2 separate regions of the Homo sapiens genome follow, and region 1 is linked to region 2. Evidence: fine-mapped expression QTL. Tissue or cell type: cerebellum. Region 2 holds a variant in brackets; the other region holds the start of a gene. All regions are shown on one strand. Distances are between the middles of the regions.

The links. PIP is the estimated chance that this variant, and not a neighbour inherited with it, causes the effect.
Region 1: it holds the start of HECW1, and the variant in region 2 is fine-mapped to the expression of HECW1 in cerebellum (GTEx, PIP above 0.99).

Annotation. Positions count from the first base shown.
Region 1 is chr7:43,108,705-43,116,809 of GRCh38, reverse strand. HECW1 (HECT, C2 and WW domain containing E3 ubiquitin protein ligase 1) reads right to left here and starts at 4,163. Exons shown (of 30, transcript NM_015052.5): 1 at 3,873-4,163; 2 at 2,419-2,653.
Region 2 is chr7:43,515,736-43,523,840 of GRCh38, reverse strand. All of the region lies in intron 24 of HECW1 (HECT, C2 and WW domain containing E3 ubiquitin protein ligase 1), which reads right to left. LUARIS (lncRNA upregulator of antiviral response interferon signaling) reads left to right here and starts at 1,299. Exons shown (of 3, transcript NR_038276.1): 1 at 1,299-1,553. The variant T/G (reference allele first, on the strand shown) is at 3,378.

The DNA.
Region 1 (8,105 bases), 410 kb after region 2:
AAAGAGGAAAAGTGACCTGAAGAAAACCCCACAGAGCATTTCATACTGTTTTCTCTAAAAGTCCGTGAACATCAAATGTGCCAACGGCTGTTTTACAGAGAGGACATGTGGGTATTGCAACTTCCTGGTTTCCTAATGTAGCTTGTCCTGTTTTTTAGGATGGAAAAGGAAGCAGGTAAATGGGAGAGAAGCAGGTGTCTTGATGTCTGTAAGTCACACCTGTTAGTCTAGAAACCTGCCATTGGGAGACTCAGTCAAGCTTGGCTGGCCCAGGAAGGATGGTTGTCTCTGGTCTAACTGTAGGTCATTTCAGAAGCACTTACAGTGGTTCAATGTTGCTTGAGCAAATAATGAGTAGACATTCCCTAGACGTGTCCATCATCCTAGCAAGCTCTGGTTGATAGAACCAGGACTTAGAGAGAAAGTGGGCAGAAGGGTGCTCACGTCTTCTGTTTAAGTGTGGATTAGAGGTTAAAGTGCTTGGGCCATGTTTCCTTCTAAGGCCAGAGCAAGACAGAACAGAGCAGTTATCAGATAAATTTTGTCAAAATGGATAATCCAGATCATTCAAGGAAAAAAATAAATAACCAAAACCTACAGCATTTGAACTCATTCTCTACGTGTTTTTTTGTTTACTGAGGGTGGGTGGTGGAAGGCCTGGATTTGAGTCCTGGCTCTCGGTTCCCCCTTAAGCATCTTACATAACCTCTCTGATTCCCCCAGCTGACTCACAAAGTGAAGGATTCCTACCTACCTCCTGCCTATACAATTAGAGGGCATTTTTATGACCTGAAATCCACTCAATAAACATTTCTGAGAACACATGATGTACCAGGCAAACTGCTAGGTGCTGGAGAGATGAATATAAACATGTCCTTGTTCTGAAGAAGCTCATCCCATATTTAAGATAAGGAGACTGTGGCACATTTACAACTCAGATAACTGCAATATTGTAAGTGCTATCTTAGCTCTATGAACAAAAAGGCTATGGGAAAACAGGAGAAGAAGTGGTTAATTATGCCTTGCAGGGACTGTAATTTCAGGATATTATTTTGATTGTAACTTAAAACAAATGAGTGCACAACTACGGAAAATTGTGTGGCTAAGCATGAATCAACAAATACCTTGACTATACCTAAATTATAAAAATTACCATAGCGCATGAAAACACTGCCTGCCTGCCTATTTAGACCAATCATTGCTTCACCCATTTTTGTGACAAGCAACAGCGCTAGCAAGTTTTGAGAGCAACACCAAATTACATCAGAGAAAGTAAGTCTCATGCCATTGTCAATTACTGCATAGGATGAAACAGCTATCTAGAGTGTCTCATTAGAAACAAACAAAAACCAATGATTGGAAAAAGTGAATTCTCAATTATCTAAGATGGGGTTGGAATGAATAACTCCACAAAAGGAGAACACCTGTTATCCAATTAATTCAATCTTCTTCTCTTTTCCCCAACCCTCCACCAAATGTTTTGCTATAGTGGACAAAAAAAAAAAAAAAAGACCTGTTTGAGTTGGTGAGTAATTTCACTTATGGGGAAAATGCAGACGCTTGGGTTTTAAAAGCTGCAAGGTATAAAAATAAGCCGCAGATTCTACAGTCAATCCTTGGTTTGCTTGCATGGTTCACGTTATAATTATTTGCCTTTCCAACACTGGGTAACTTTTCTTACTCCTCTGTCAGTTACCACAGAATGCTGGAACTAGAAAGAACGATAGAAACCAGCCAGTCCAACTTCCTTTACCATGAGGAATGAGACTCAGGCTTGTCTTTCCATATCACATCTGGCCTTTTAATATTTCTTTTGTTAACAATCATATCAGATGGAAGCATAATAGAAGGTAAAGCTCAAAGTGATCTTGTAATACATCCATCTTTAAAAGCCAGAGTGTAAAAGGAATCAAGTCAAATGATGCTATATACACAAATAACAGAGCTGCAGTCCCTCTGTATTGATACATTGATGGGCTGTTCCAGCTCCGGATGTGACCTCCCTATCAAGTCAATAATGTCACAATCTAAACAAACTTAGGCAATTTGCCTTCATGAAAAAACTACTCCAAAAAAAAAGAGAACTGTCATTCCACAAAGCAGCCAACTGCACTAGACTGGGATTATAGTGTGGAATTAGTCAGAACGTGGATTATTAAATAAAACACTAGAACGGCCAATTTGCCTGGAGGTCTAGGAATTAAAATAGTGCTTTGTTTTTCCAATGCCACATTCCAGAGGAAGCAGCAAGCGGAGGGAACAGGCAACAGGGAATTCTACCAACAGGGAATTCTACCACAATCTATCTCTCTACCAAACAGGCACACACATTCATACCAGGGTGGGCATGTGGACTCTAATCCCTTCTTAGTGGAAAACACACATTTTTAAATGAATCCCCAATCTAGAATGAATTACCGTAATAGCCACAGCCGGAGTGAGTCTGCTGATGAGAAACGCAGATCTGGCCACCTGCTTTGAGACGCCTTGGACCACAACACTGCCGGGGTCTTTAACGGTTGGCCTTTTCGGGTAGGGCATCTGCCCTCCTAAATCGCGTTTAAATCCCAGGAAAAGAGAGAAGATGCCTCCCTCAATTTTTGAACTATGCTGCTCTTGCTGTATCCGTTTCTGCTGAACATAGCATTGATATCTTTTCAAAGAGAAGGGGGGAAAACAAGGGGAGAATTGCACCACTGCAGATTCCAAGAGAAGTAAGCACAAAACTACAGCAACGTCAAATAATATCTTCTTCGGCAACTAGGAAAATCCCCACATGCTCTCTGGTGTCAGCCCAATGCAGACTGAGGCGCGCTGTGCCCGGAACCACAGGAAGCCGGGCATCTCTGCAGCCTGTGTCCCTGCCAGCTCCCCCTACGCGCTGAAATTCGGCAGGGAAGAAGTTATGGTGCCCAGCCTCTGTGTGCAAGACAGAGACACCGCGCATCATGGCTCTGAAAATCAGCCAAGTGGCCGGGACGTCAAAGCGGCAGAGCAATCAGAATGCCCTGGAGCCGGGGATGGAGGGGCCACATTGTTTGAGCCCTCGGATTTTGCTGCATTGTCACCGCCCGGGAACGTGGGGGTAGCAGGAAGCGCACCTCCAGCCAAAAATGGACCGGACGCATTCCCCCCCCCTCCCCGCCCCGGCAGCTCCCTCCCTGCCTGTCTGCAAGTCGCAATACGGTAGGCGACATGACTGCTCCCGCTAAAACTCAGGTGGCAGGCCCGGCTGAGCGGCGCAGCCGGCCGGTAACAGGGAGGCGCTGGGGGAGCACCCACACAGCGCCTCCTCCCCTCCTGCACCCGTCCATGGGAGCAAGGGCCGGACCTGGCCACGCGCCCCTCGAGCGAGCACCGGCGAGCCCGTGCGGAGGCTCTGGGCGCTCTCTGGGCTAACCACGGGCATTGCATGGGACACAATTGTTCAAAAGCGAGCCCAAGGCGAAGCGCAAATCCAGAGCTTTGGTTCACAAGGGGTGGGTGTGGGCTGGGAAGGGGGATTACGTAGGTCTCTCCGCCCCCTCCCCTGACACCTCCTCGCCACTGGGAGGGCGCTGAGGGGCGGGGGAGGCGCTGCGAACCCGCTTGGGGGCTTCTTTGTTTCTCTCCGTACCCCGCAGGAGGGCCGGGTGCGCCTGCAGTACCCAAGCCGGGGTCGCCACCCGGGGATGCCGGCCCGGACCGGGCGGCGGCGCGACCCAGGCTGACAATTGAACCTCGCGGGAGAAGCGAGAGGGTGGGGAGGAGGGTGGATCTCGGCCCCGAGAAGGGAGGGCGCTGCCGGGGCCTCGCGTGCGGCGGGGAAGCCGCCCAGAGAAGGGCGGGGGGGAAGGGGCGGCAGACAGTGTCCCCGCGCTACGCCCGCTTACCTTGGCAGCCCTGGCCTGGGCACAGATCATGCTCCTGTCAGCGCGCAGATTAGAGCTGGGGGGCGCACGTGCCCCGCATAGTGCACCGGGCGCCTGGGACTGGCTGGGGAGGGGACCCTGGCGACCGCCCGCTCTCGCTGCGCTCTGGCTGCCGGGTGCCCCGAGAGAGCGGAGGCCACGGCCACTGTCACGGCGGAGGGGCGCGCGCGGCTCGGCGAGTGTGTGCGCGAGGAGGGGGCCGGTTCGGTCAGAGTCGCACGGTGTTCCGGCTCCAACAACAGCGCCTGATGCGCGGTAACGCAGCACACTTCATCGCTTTATCCTCCCGCTTGCATCCCCTCCCTCCCTGCCTGCTCCTCTGTGGGTACCAGACTCCAGAACCAACCACAAGCCGGGCTTGCTCTCATTAGCGCTGCCCCGCCCTGCAGCCTCCGCGCACCCCCACCCCCGCCCCCGCGGTAAATATATATCGATTCTTGTTACCGCCGGCCCCATCCTTCCAACACCCAGCACGCGTACTGGGCATATCCAACACCAACCCTGGCTCCTCGGCCCTTTTGTGTGTGTGCAAACAGTGTAGCAGAAAGGATGCGGTACAGACACTCTAGGCGGGTACCCTGTGACAGGTGTTCTTGGCCTCTGTCTTAGACACTTTCCTCGCTTACCTTACACACAGTTAAGAACGCTCAGAGACACATTTCAGGAACCGTCCTGTATTTGCACAAGCACACAAAACATCGTAATGACAAATGCAAAGGATGAAAATCACCCCAGAATATCTATTGTTGGGCAAACCTAGCTCCCAAACCGCGTTTTCTATTACACTGCACACAGTGTCAGAATGCTAGAACGAGAAGGAGGCAAAGTCTAGACCCTTCCAGGTACAGCCAACTGAGATGCAAAGAGAAGTGAAATGCTGGTTACTATTGGTGGTTGGCTGCTCCATGTATGCACATTTTTGTGCATCTGGTCGACATTTGGTTTGTGTGTGTTCACATAAAATGCAGAGGCTTTGAGCACATAATCTCTATAGCCTGGGATTTTATGATCCAACCACATTCTCTACAATGCTGATTTATTCCTTCCCATTATTTTGCCCAGCATCCTCTACATGAGCTTTTTTTCACTTTCTGAGAAGTTATCTTCTTTCCCAGACCCCAAACTCCGCCTCCTCTAGAATAAACAAAGGCTTCACCCTGACTTCAGAACTCCTTACTGAAGACCTGAGTACGGACTTGTCAAAACCAAATCTCCTTCCCCTTCCACCCACAGTGGCTAGTTTCTCAGTGCCTCTCATTCCACTGACCTGCCTCTTGGCATTGATTTCACTCTTACAACTGGAACTTTCCAGAACTGGAAACTTTGGACGATGTGAAGGCAGCTTCACCAGCTGTGCTCTTTTCTGCAAGGAGGCACAGCCCTTCTCTTTCCGTATTCCACTTGGGGTGCCCAGTCCTTTCCTGACAGACCCTTTTCTTTGCCTGACAGCAGTCAGATCTTCTGGTCAGATGAGCTCAAAGCAGACCATTTTCAAACCTTAGCTAAGAATCCACACAGAAAGCTGTGCACACATTTCTCCGGATTTTACACTTGGATTAGTACCAACTCCTATATGAAGAAAACTCTCCGAGAATAGACTTGAACAGGCTGTGGCAGTAAACAGCAACAGCAACCAACCATGTGATGTTTCCAACCAGAGACTTGAAAGAAAACAAAAACTTTCACATAAACCAGCATCCATGGTTTCTAAATTAGCACAATGTCACCAAACCACAATAAAGGATAATTTTTTTACCTCAACTAATTGCCAGGATGTTCACCTCATTATTTTCAGTGAATCAGCATCAACTTGGCTCAGAGATGTTTGCTCTCTGTTCTATCCATCATGGAGATGACTTGACAAGTCCACATCTCTCATAGAGGTTATTGATGTAGCAATCCTTGTGGTGTGCTTTATCCTCCCCTGAGGAGTTGCTTTTTTTATACTGAAGACAAAAGATATTAAAATAGCAGTACACAAAGTTTCACATCCTGAGTAGATAAAGAAGCCTTGTAGAGCAGCTTCTACATGTCAGGTGCAATGGCAGCATATACAGACTCCTGTGTATTGTCCCCTTTTATTTTTATTATTTTTATTTTTTGTGAGGGGTCTCACTCCAATGCCCAGGGTGGAGTATAGTGGTGCAATCTCCATTCACTGCAACCTCCGCCTCCCAGGCTCAAGCAACTCTCCCCCCTCAGCCTCCCGAGTACCTGGGAGTACAGGTGTGTGCCACCATGCCTGGCTAATTTGTTTTTTGTATTTTTAGTGGAGATGGGGTTTTGCCAAGTTGCCCAGGCTGGTCTTGAACTCCTGAGCTCAAGCAATCCTCCTGCCTCAGCCCCCCAAAGTGCTAGGATTACAGACGTGAACCACCATGCCTGGCCTGTTTTGTTTGTTATTCCTAACAGTCCCCCTGTAGTCTGGGTAGCATGATCCTATTTTACAGAAGAAAGCAAAAAGGCTATGTTAGTTCTGTAATTTCCTTAAGTCTTGTTTCAAGCAGAAGACCTTGAATCTGGAGTTTACAGATGTCAGCTGCCCTAACCTTAAAGAGAAGAGTATTTGGTGGAGAAAGGAAAAGACATGGCATGAATCTTAAAGCCATCCTAGTAGTCATATTTATTAAGTTTCTAATGTACTCAAAATACTGTTATAAATAATAAGTCACAGTCCCAGTGCGTCCCTCCTAATACTAACCTTATATAATGGCGTAAAGTGAATGTTGAAGGTTTTGAGATGCATATACAAACACCTGTATTATCATAATGCCCATGCAACCGAATCTTCCACCTTTTGTAACTCGAGGCCCAGGAGGACCCAGGGAGGGGGTGACATGCCTGCTCACCTGCTCATCTCAGGCCACATGCAGATAAAGATTAGCAAACAGAGCACCATTCACAAATGGTCCCTACAATGCTGAGAAAACGATAACTTGAACCAATCCGGGGCTTTATCTTTGGGGATAGGCCTTCAACATAATGTCGGAAGTGAACGCACTATAACTAGGGGAGGAAAAAGACCGAGCTGTTGAAGCTATCTCACATAGTCTCTGCACAGGAGCAAATTGTAGCCAATAATACAAGATTGTCATTTGGACTTTCCTAATGACTAATGATGGTGAGCATCTACTTTTGTGCTTCTCTTCCATCCGTCTATCATTTGTAGTAAAGTGCTCAAAATTTTTGCTCATTTTTAAGTGGGTTGTTTGCTTTTATATTGTTCATTTTTGAGAGTTCTTTCTGTATTCTAGATACAATGTCTTTGTCAGATAAGTTTTCTGAATATTTCCTCCCCATGTGTGGCTTGTCTTTTCATTCTCTTAGTAGTTTCTGTCACAGAGTAAATGTCTTTAAAGTTGATGGAGTTCAATGTATCAACTTTTTCTTTCAGAGATCATGCTTTTGGTATATCTAAGAACTCTTTTGACTAACCAAGGTTACAAAGAGTTGTGTTTTGCTGATAAGTTTCAAGATTTTACATTTTACACTTAAGTATTTGGTTCATTTTGAATTCTTATTATTTTTTAGGTGTGAGCTATGGATGGTGACTTTTTTATTTGTTGGCTTGTTTTTGCACATGGGATGTCCAATTCTTCTAGCACCACTTATTGAAAAGATCCTTTCTTGATTGAATCGCTTTCGCAACTTTTCAATAATCGCTTGGTTAGATTTGTAGGGGTCTCTTTCTATATTCTCTGTTTTGTGCCTCTGATCTGTCTTTCTATTGTTTTACAAATAGTACACTATTTTGTAGATGTATACTGCCTTAAAATCAGGTAGTGTGAACCCTCCAATTCTGTCCTTTTTAAACATTATTTTGGCTATTTTCATTTCTTTGCCTTTTTATATGAATTTAGAAATGGTTGTCAATATCTACAAAAAAATTCCCACTGGGATTTTGATTGCAGTTGTGTTAAATTTATAGATGAATATCAGAAGAACTGACATTTTAACAATCTTCCAATTTCTGAATACCTTTCAACCCACAAACTTAGCATTTCTCTGCATTTGTTTAGGTTTCCTTTGATTTATTTCATCAGTAGTTGAAGTTTTCAGTATGCAAATTCTACACAGATTCTAAGAGTTTCCATGTAGATTCTAAGAGTTTCATTTTTTTGGTACTATTGTAAAAGGTATTGATTTTAATTTTGAATTTCACTTTGTATTAAAGTGTACCTGGGATTTGTTTTA
Region 2 (8,105 bases):
GCACATGCATCCTTGCCTCCTTACACCCCACTAATTGGGGGGGTCTTCTTTTTATCTAATCCCCCTCATATCACCAGCCTCTCCCTCCCTCTGGTTCTTGCTTTCGGCGCCTCTCTCATTAGTAAGTACATCTGCAATCTACACTTGCCATTTATTTCCCTCGATCTCAAGGAAAAAGGGGCTGACTCTTTTCTTTTTTTCGAGATGGCGTTTCCCTCTTGTTGCTCAGGCTGGAGTGCAATGGCGAGATCTCTGCTCACTGCAACCTCCACCTCCCGGGTTCAAGCAATTCTCCTGCTGGGGCTGACTCTCTTTCAAAGCTAATGTCTTCACTTGGGCTATCTATTGTCTTTCCCTGCCTCCTCTGGGCTCTTCTTCCATCCACTTTTTGCTCTCTCTTATAATTCAAGATTTCTCTCTCTTCTGACATTGTCTCCTCAAAGGCCTTGCATCCTTCTAGCGGCCCCACAAAGCCAAGCTCCTAGAAAGAGCAGTTTTCAGGGCTGTTTGATGCTGGTGTTTAAAAATACGAGCAAGGCCAGGCATGGCGGCTCATGACTATAATCCCAGCACTTTGGGAGGCCGAGGCAGGTGAATCAACTGAGGTCAGGAGTTCGAGACCCCCCCCGGCCAACATGGAGAAACCCCTTATGTACTAAAAACACAAAAATTAGCCGGGCCTGGTGGCACACACCTGTAATCCCAGCTACTTGAGAGGCTGAGGCAGGAGAATTGCTTGAACCTGGGAGGAGGAGGTTGCAGTGAGCCAAGATCGCACCATTGCACTCTAGCCTGGGGGACAAGAGCGAAATTCCATCTCAAAACAAACAAACAAACAAACAAGCAGAACTACCTTTGGAAAGAGAACACACAGTACAAAGAGTAGGCGGAAGTGCCAGCAATAACATCCCCACCACGGAGCTGTTTTTGGAATAAATATTAGGGAAGCAGAGTTTTGATTCTCTGCAGCTCCCTGTCCTCCTGGCACAATCAAATTTCCCTGCTCCTGGCTTTTATACCAAGGCCAGCATTGCTGTCATTCCCTGTGCTCCGTGCACATTCTTGTGGGCTGAGTTCAGGGTTTGGCCACAGGCTAGTCTCCTGTCTCCACAGCTAATAGGGGGTTTGGTGTAGGCCCTGGCATCCCCACCAGTGGTTTGCTTTGTAATTTTTCCCTCTTGGCCTGTGGGAGGACTGAGGCATGGTGTCTAGAACTCCTGCGCAGCTGCAGGCCTGCTTGGAGGGTGAGGTGGCTGTTGTGGGGCAGGTGAGAGCACGCCAGGGCCATAGCTAACCTCCAGCCTTCATGAAGAGCCCATGGCAACTCTGTGGGAATCCTTCCAGCAGCCCGCTTATGGCTGGAGACAGAGGTGTGGCTTCTATCTAAGCTTTTCCCTCTGACTCAGTCCAGGAGGCAACTGTCTTGGGAAGCAAATGATAACAGCATCTGGGAGATTCTCTTCTGGATGGACTAGCAGGGAATCAGGACATGAACTCAGTGGACTAACTGCACCGAGACTCACCTGGTCATTACTTGAAGGTCATTACTTAAAGTAAGTTCTTCAGTTGCCAACATTTGAAAACTAAAGTGTGTGGTTCAGTTATGCTGGTCCAATAATCAGAGAAGTCTAATATGTGAGTGTCTTAGTTCATTCCTGTGGCTATAACAAAATACCATGGCTTGAGTAATTTATAAATAATAGAAATTTATTTCTCACAGCTCTGAAGGCTGAGAAATCCAAGATCAAGGTGCCAAAAGATTCAGGGTCTGGTAAGGCCTTGTTCTCTGCTTCTAAGATGGACACCTTGCGGTATCCTCAAATGGCAGAATGGGAAGAGCAAAAGGGACTAGGCCACTCCCTTCAACCTCTTTTATAGGGGGACTGATCCCATTCACAAAGGTGGAGCCCTCATGACTTAATCACTTTCCCAAACGCCTCACTTCTTTTTCTGTTGTTGTTTATTTTTGAGATGGAGTTTTGCTTTTGTTGCTCAGGCTGGAGTGCAATGCAATTAGGCTCACTGCAACCTCTGCCTCCCAGGTTCAAGCGATTCTCCTGCCTTAGCCTTCCTGAGTAGCTGGGATTACAGACATGTGCCACCACGCCTGGCTAATTTTTGTATTTTTAGTAGAGATGGGGTTTCACCATGTTGTCAGACTGGTCTTGAACTCCTGACTTCAGGTGATCCACCCGCCTTGGCCTCCCAAAGTGCTGGGATTACAGGCATGACTTTCCTTGCCCAGCCAAGGTCTGACTTCTTAATACCATCACCTTGGGGGTTAAGTTTCAACCTATGAATTTTGGAAAAACACATATATTCAACCCGCAGCCATGACGTATTCCAAGGCTGAAAATGTTTTCCTAAAACTCTAGGCCTACAGAAATACTTTTAATCCTGCAAAAATTTTGCTTAACCTTTTCTTTTTCCAGTCTTCCATCATGAAAACAGTGATTCTCAACAGAGTGATTTTGCCTCCTAGGAGAATTGTGGCAATGTCTGGAAACATTTTTGGTTGTGACAGCTGGGGGTGATCGTGGTGGTGCTACTGTACCTAGTGGGCAAACTCACTCTCTCAAGGCCTTTTATAAGGGCCTTACTCCCATTCATGACTCTGCCCTCATCGTTTAATCACTTCTTAAAGGCCCCACCTCTTAATATCATCACGTTGGTGATTAAGTTTCAACATATGAATTCTGAGAGACGCATCCGTCAAACCACATCAGGCACTCTTATGTCCTTTTGGTGAACTAGGAGGCTGAGACTCAGATAGGTTAAGAAAGCTGCCCAGGTTCTACTGAGAGTTGGAGCAGGCATGAAACCTGGGTTTGCCTTTTGCTGTGTGGCACCTGCCTCAGGACCTGAAGGGTGCTGCCTCCATGCCAGAAACCACGCTGGCTGCAGAGGGCAAACCTGAACAATAAGATGTTGCCCTGATCCAGTTTAAAAGCTAACACAAAGTGGCCAGGGAGGGATGGAAGGAGAGACGCAGACAGTAGATTAGAGCAGTGCTTTCTCAAGCTATTTTGCACAGAAGCATAGAGATGGGGAGGAGGAAGAGCCTGAGGGGCTCAGTGAACCAGGCACCCCTCCTTGCCAGAGGCAAGGCTTCACTTTCGTCTGTTCTAGATTGGAGAACAAGGTTCCAGCTAAAAGGGTTTGGAAACCTTTGTGTTTTTTTTAAAAAAAACCTTAAAGTAGAATAATAATAATAAAAAAATAATTCAAGAGAAGATGAACATATTTGTCTTGAGAAGGTGCAGGAAATCATGAAGAAATCATGAATGAACTACACAGTATTTTAAGTGGATTTTCAGGGTAGGAAATTTGCGCCCATGTAAATGAGAGAAGAAGAACAGAAGAAACAATCGCGCACA[T/G]ATGGGCAGCAGAGCAAAGCCTAAGGAAGCGTGGGGAGGGCAGAGGAGGAGCTGCCCGGGAGAGGCAGATGGTGTCTCAAGGCAGGTGGTCCTCGTGCTTTGGCTGTCCTGAGAATCCGAGGAGTCCAGACTCCATTTCGTAGACAGTAGGGAATTAGTAAAGAGGTCTGTGCTGAGTAAAGGGGGGATAAATGGAAAAAGAGATAAAGAAGGGAAGAGACCCAGGGTAGGGTGAGCATAGTTGTACCATATACATGAGGCATTCACAATATGCCAGGAGCTCATGTGTAGAACAGTTTGTAGAACCCAGCATCAAGTCCTTAGGTGATAAGAATAGTGCATTGATGAATGCATATCTAAGACATTTGTTTACCACTAATAATTAAGCTAAGACATTTTTACCAAATGGCATCTTGGCTGTAAGAGATTTATTTATTTTTTACCCACAGATGTAATTTTTATATAGACTTTGGCTTCTCCTGGCATGGCTGGCTCCTGTTACCTCGGCTCATCTCCTGTGACACATATTGATAATCTAAAATGTGCCCTTCCATATTTTTTATCTGAATCATATAATCACATACTAATATATTTATATTTACATATCTCTAGCTACATACACACAGGCTTGGGGTTACTATTTTTCAGTTTTTGAATTGCGTTTTTCATGCTTTTCTGCTTTTCTTCTCTCAACAATATCTTGAGGAAATCTTTCTCTATCACCTGGTAAGGTTCTAATTCAGTCTTTTTTATGCCTCATATGACTGTGCAGTGTGGATCTGCTGTAATACATTTAACCATTCCCCTGCCGATGGACATTTGCATTGCTTCTAGGTTTGTGTCTTTACAAACAATGCTGAAATAAACACACCTGGGTGTTTTGTGCGGCAGTCCAGCATAGCTTTTAAAAGTCTGCACTAGGCCAGGCGCGGTGGCTCACGCCTGTAATCCCAGCACTTTGGGAGGCCGAGACGGGCCAATCATGAAGTCAGGAGTTTGAGACCAGCCTGGCCAAAATAGTGAAACCCCGTCTCTACTAAAAATACAAAAATTAGCCGGGTGTGATAGTGGGCGCCTGTAGTCCCAGCTACTCAGGAGGCTGAGGCAGGAGAATCGCTTGAACCAGGAAGGTGGAGGTTGCAGTGAGCCAAGATCGTGCCATTGCACTCCAGCCTGGTGACAGAGCAAGACTCTGTCTAAAAAAAAAAAAAGTCTGCACTCTAGAGTCAGACTGCATGTGATTGCTCCCTACCTCTGTCACTTACTAGCTCTTGTATTGGGCAAGTTTAAACCTCTATGGGTATGAGTTTCCTCATTTGTAAAATAGAGGATTATACTAGGTTATGTAATTCATGTTGAGCCTTTGCAAAAATACCTGGCCCATAATAAGGGCTCAATAAATATTACCTGTTATTACAAAAGTACTGAATATTAGTGCTTTTGTTTCTATGAGATAACTTTATGGGCTAAAGGGTATAGGGGTTTTAAAAATTTTAGTTTATATTGTGGATTGCATTCCCCCCTGAAAGGCTATAAAATTGCTTTCATGCATGTTTCTACCAACAATGCATGAAAGCATCCTTTTACTTATGTCCCCTCCAAAAATAAATAACTCTTCAATTTTTGGCAATTTGATCGTTATAAGGTGATATATCATTGTTACCTTAGTTTTCATTTCCTTCACCACTGGAAAAGTTGACATTTTTTAATGGGTTTATCAATCATTTGAATTTGTTCTTCTCTGACCAACTTTTTCATATTCTTTACCAGTTTTCCCAGGGTTGTATCTCCTCTTTTTTTCAAGTTGCAAGAGCTCTTTGAAATTTGTATTACAGATTTTCAACCTCTGATTTTCTTGAGTTGCAAAGATTAATTTTCAAGATCAAAGCTTGTCTTTTGACCTTGTTTATGGTATTTTTGTCAGAAAGTATTTTAACTTTTATATATTCAAATACGTTTTTTTTTTTTGAGATGGTGTCTCACTCTGTTGCCCAGGCTGGAGTGCAGTGGCGCAATCCAGGCCCACTGCAACCTTTGCTACCTGGGTTCAAGCAATTCTCCTGCCTCAGCCTCCTGAGTAGCTGGGATTACAGGCATGTGCCACTAGGCCTGGTTAATTTTTGTATTTTTTAGTAGAGATGGGGTTTCACCATGTTGGCCAGGATGGTCTCAAACTCCTGACCTCAAGTGATCCACCCGCCTTGGCCTCCTAAAGTGTTGGAATTAGAGGTGTGAGCCACTGTGCCCGGCCTTTCTTTTCTTTTATAGATTCTAGTTGTTGATTAAAAAGATTGTCTCTAAAAAGGTCTCTACCACTCAAGGTTTCTTGAGTTCATTTTATGTTCTCAATAATTTTTATGTTCTAGCATATGCATAAATTCACCTAGATTTTCCTGAAGAAATTTCATTCCTTTTTTTCACGTATTTTCAAAGTAGAGAGGAATCTAACATAATTTTCTTTTGGTTGCATACCCAGTTACAGTACTGGCATCATTAACTAAATAGTTAATTCTTTTCCTACTGGAAGTTTCTCACACATTCTGAAGAAAGCTGGGTTCAGAAATAGGACAGGCAGAATCCCAACCAATCCCGTACATTCTATGGTGACTTCTCATCTAACTTTTGCTCCACATCTTCTTTGAGAATTGATAGGGAGGCTACTGAGATTCAGCCAGAGATGGGGTCAGCAAAGCTCTTGTAGGTGTTCGTGAAAGAACCCAGGGGCTGTTGTTAGGGGTAGGGCTGGGGCTGGGGCTTACCTGATCTTAAACTCAGATCAAAAGTCCACACTGAGCTCTTTTGTCAGGAGGGCCCTGGGAGGTTGAAGGGCCATGAGACACCCAGTGGGATCTCATAATGTTGTGGTTTCTACCTACTAATTCAAGACTCTGCAGATGTAGCAAGGGATATTTAAAATGTGTTATCCGGGACTTCTTAAGTTCCATAAAACTCTACAATTACACTTAATACCCACTTACCCACTTGGCCAAACTCTAAACATGCACAAAAGAGCTTCCCTCCTCCCCCACTTCCCCTTGCTAAAGACCTGAAAACAGAAGATTTTTACCACCCAGGTAGTATCTGCTTGGGAAGGGAGAGAGGTCGGGGCTGGGGCAGAAGGGGGCAGGGGAGTCTGTTTATTTTGCAGTTAGCAAAGGGCCTTGGGATCCTCTTGGAAATTTTGGTTTGAGAGGTGGTAAAATGTCTGATTGTGACAACTGTAAGGTTAGATTCGTCACCACCACAGACATAAATGAGCTCACAGACATTTTGGTGGCTGCAGAGAAACTGATTAACAGCATCAAATCTGAAATCTGGCCCTGAAAATCCTTCTCACACTGACAATTATGTAAAGAGTGACTCATAACGTAGTCGTTTCTTAAAATGATACATGTTAGCACAAGCATAGGCCACATAACCACATTTCAGTTAATGACAGACCACATATACAACGGCGGTCTCAAAAGATTATAACGGAGCTGCCCTATACAGGTGTACCATTTCTTATCTTCTATACAATAATTTTACTGTACTTTTTCTATGTTTAGCTATGTTGAGATACACAAATACTTGCTATTGTGTTACAGTTGCCTAAGGTATTCAGTACAGTAACATGTTGTGCAGGTTTGTTGCCCAGGAGCAATAGGCTATAGCATAGAGCATAGGTGTGAGGTAGGCTCTGCCATCTAGGTTTGTGTAATTCCACTCTATGATGTTCACGCAATGATAAAATTGCTTAGTGATGCATTTCTCAGAGGTATCCCTGTCGTTAACTGACACATGACTGTACTTAAGACAAAGAAAATGTGTCTGAGGCGCTGGTATTCTTCCTAGGAATAGAGAAGGAACTCACCTATTTCAGTTGTTCAGACTTTTAGGGCATCTCAGATTTGCTCCAGGAAAAGTGACATTCAGAATGATTGGGACAAAAAGAATTTCCAGTGGTGATTTCAGAGAGAATAGTTGGTAGGAGCTTAAATGACACTCAACAATGAGTGAGAGGCTCCAAATTTACTTATTTATTTTTACTGTTTTTATTTATTTTATTTTAGTTTAAATATTCTGAACTAAAAATTGAAATGAGATAAAAATTCTCATTAACCAAGAAGTTTTACCTGAGAAGTATTCCATCCGTCCATCCATCCTTCCACTCAACCATCCGTCTATCTGTCCAGCCTGTCTTCTTCCCTCCCTCCTTTCTTTTTTTCCTTCCTTCCTTCCACACATATTTACTGAGCGCCAAGTATGTGACTAGGAAAGCTACAGCCAAGACTCTGGTCTCACTGGGCTTACATTTTCGGGAAGAAACGACAACGAATTATAAACATATTAATACTTTTTATAGTGATAAATTCAGTCAATATATTAAAGTAAGATGTTAAGTTGGAAAATTATAAATGGATGCACTATTTTAAATTGAGTGCTCAGGAAAGACCCTTAGAGAAGGGAATGTTTGAACTTAAATGTGAATCTTTCCTATATAAACATAATAGTTTGAAACTATATGCATTTGCAATATTCATGCATTGTATTAGACATAAAAATAAATTTGGACCTTTCACAATTCATTTATAGTTTTGTTTTTTATGCCTCCATTCAAAATATGCGAGCATTTTAACTTGGTAGTTTCTTATATATAATTTTGCAGCAAGTAAGTGAAGAGTTTCCAATGACACAAAGTTTTGGTAAATATTAAAAATGTTGAAATAACATATCTCACAGCATCTG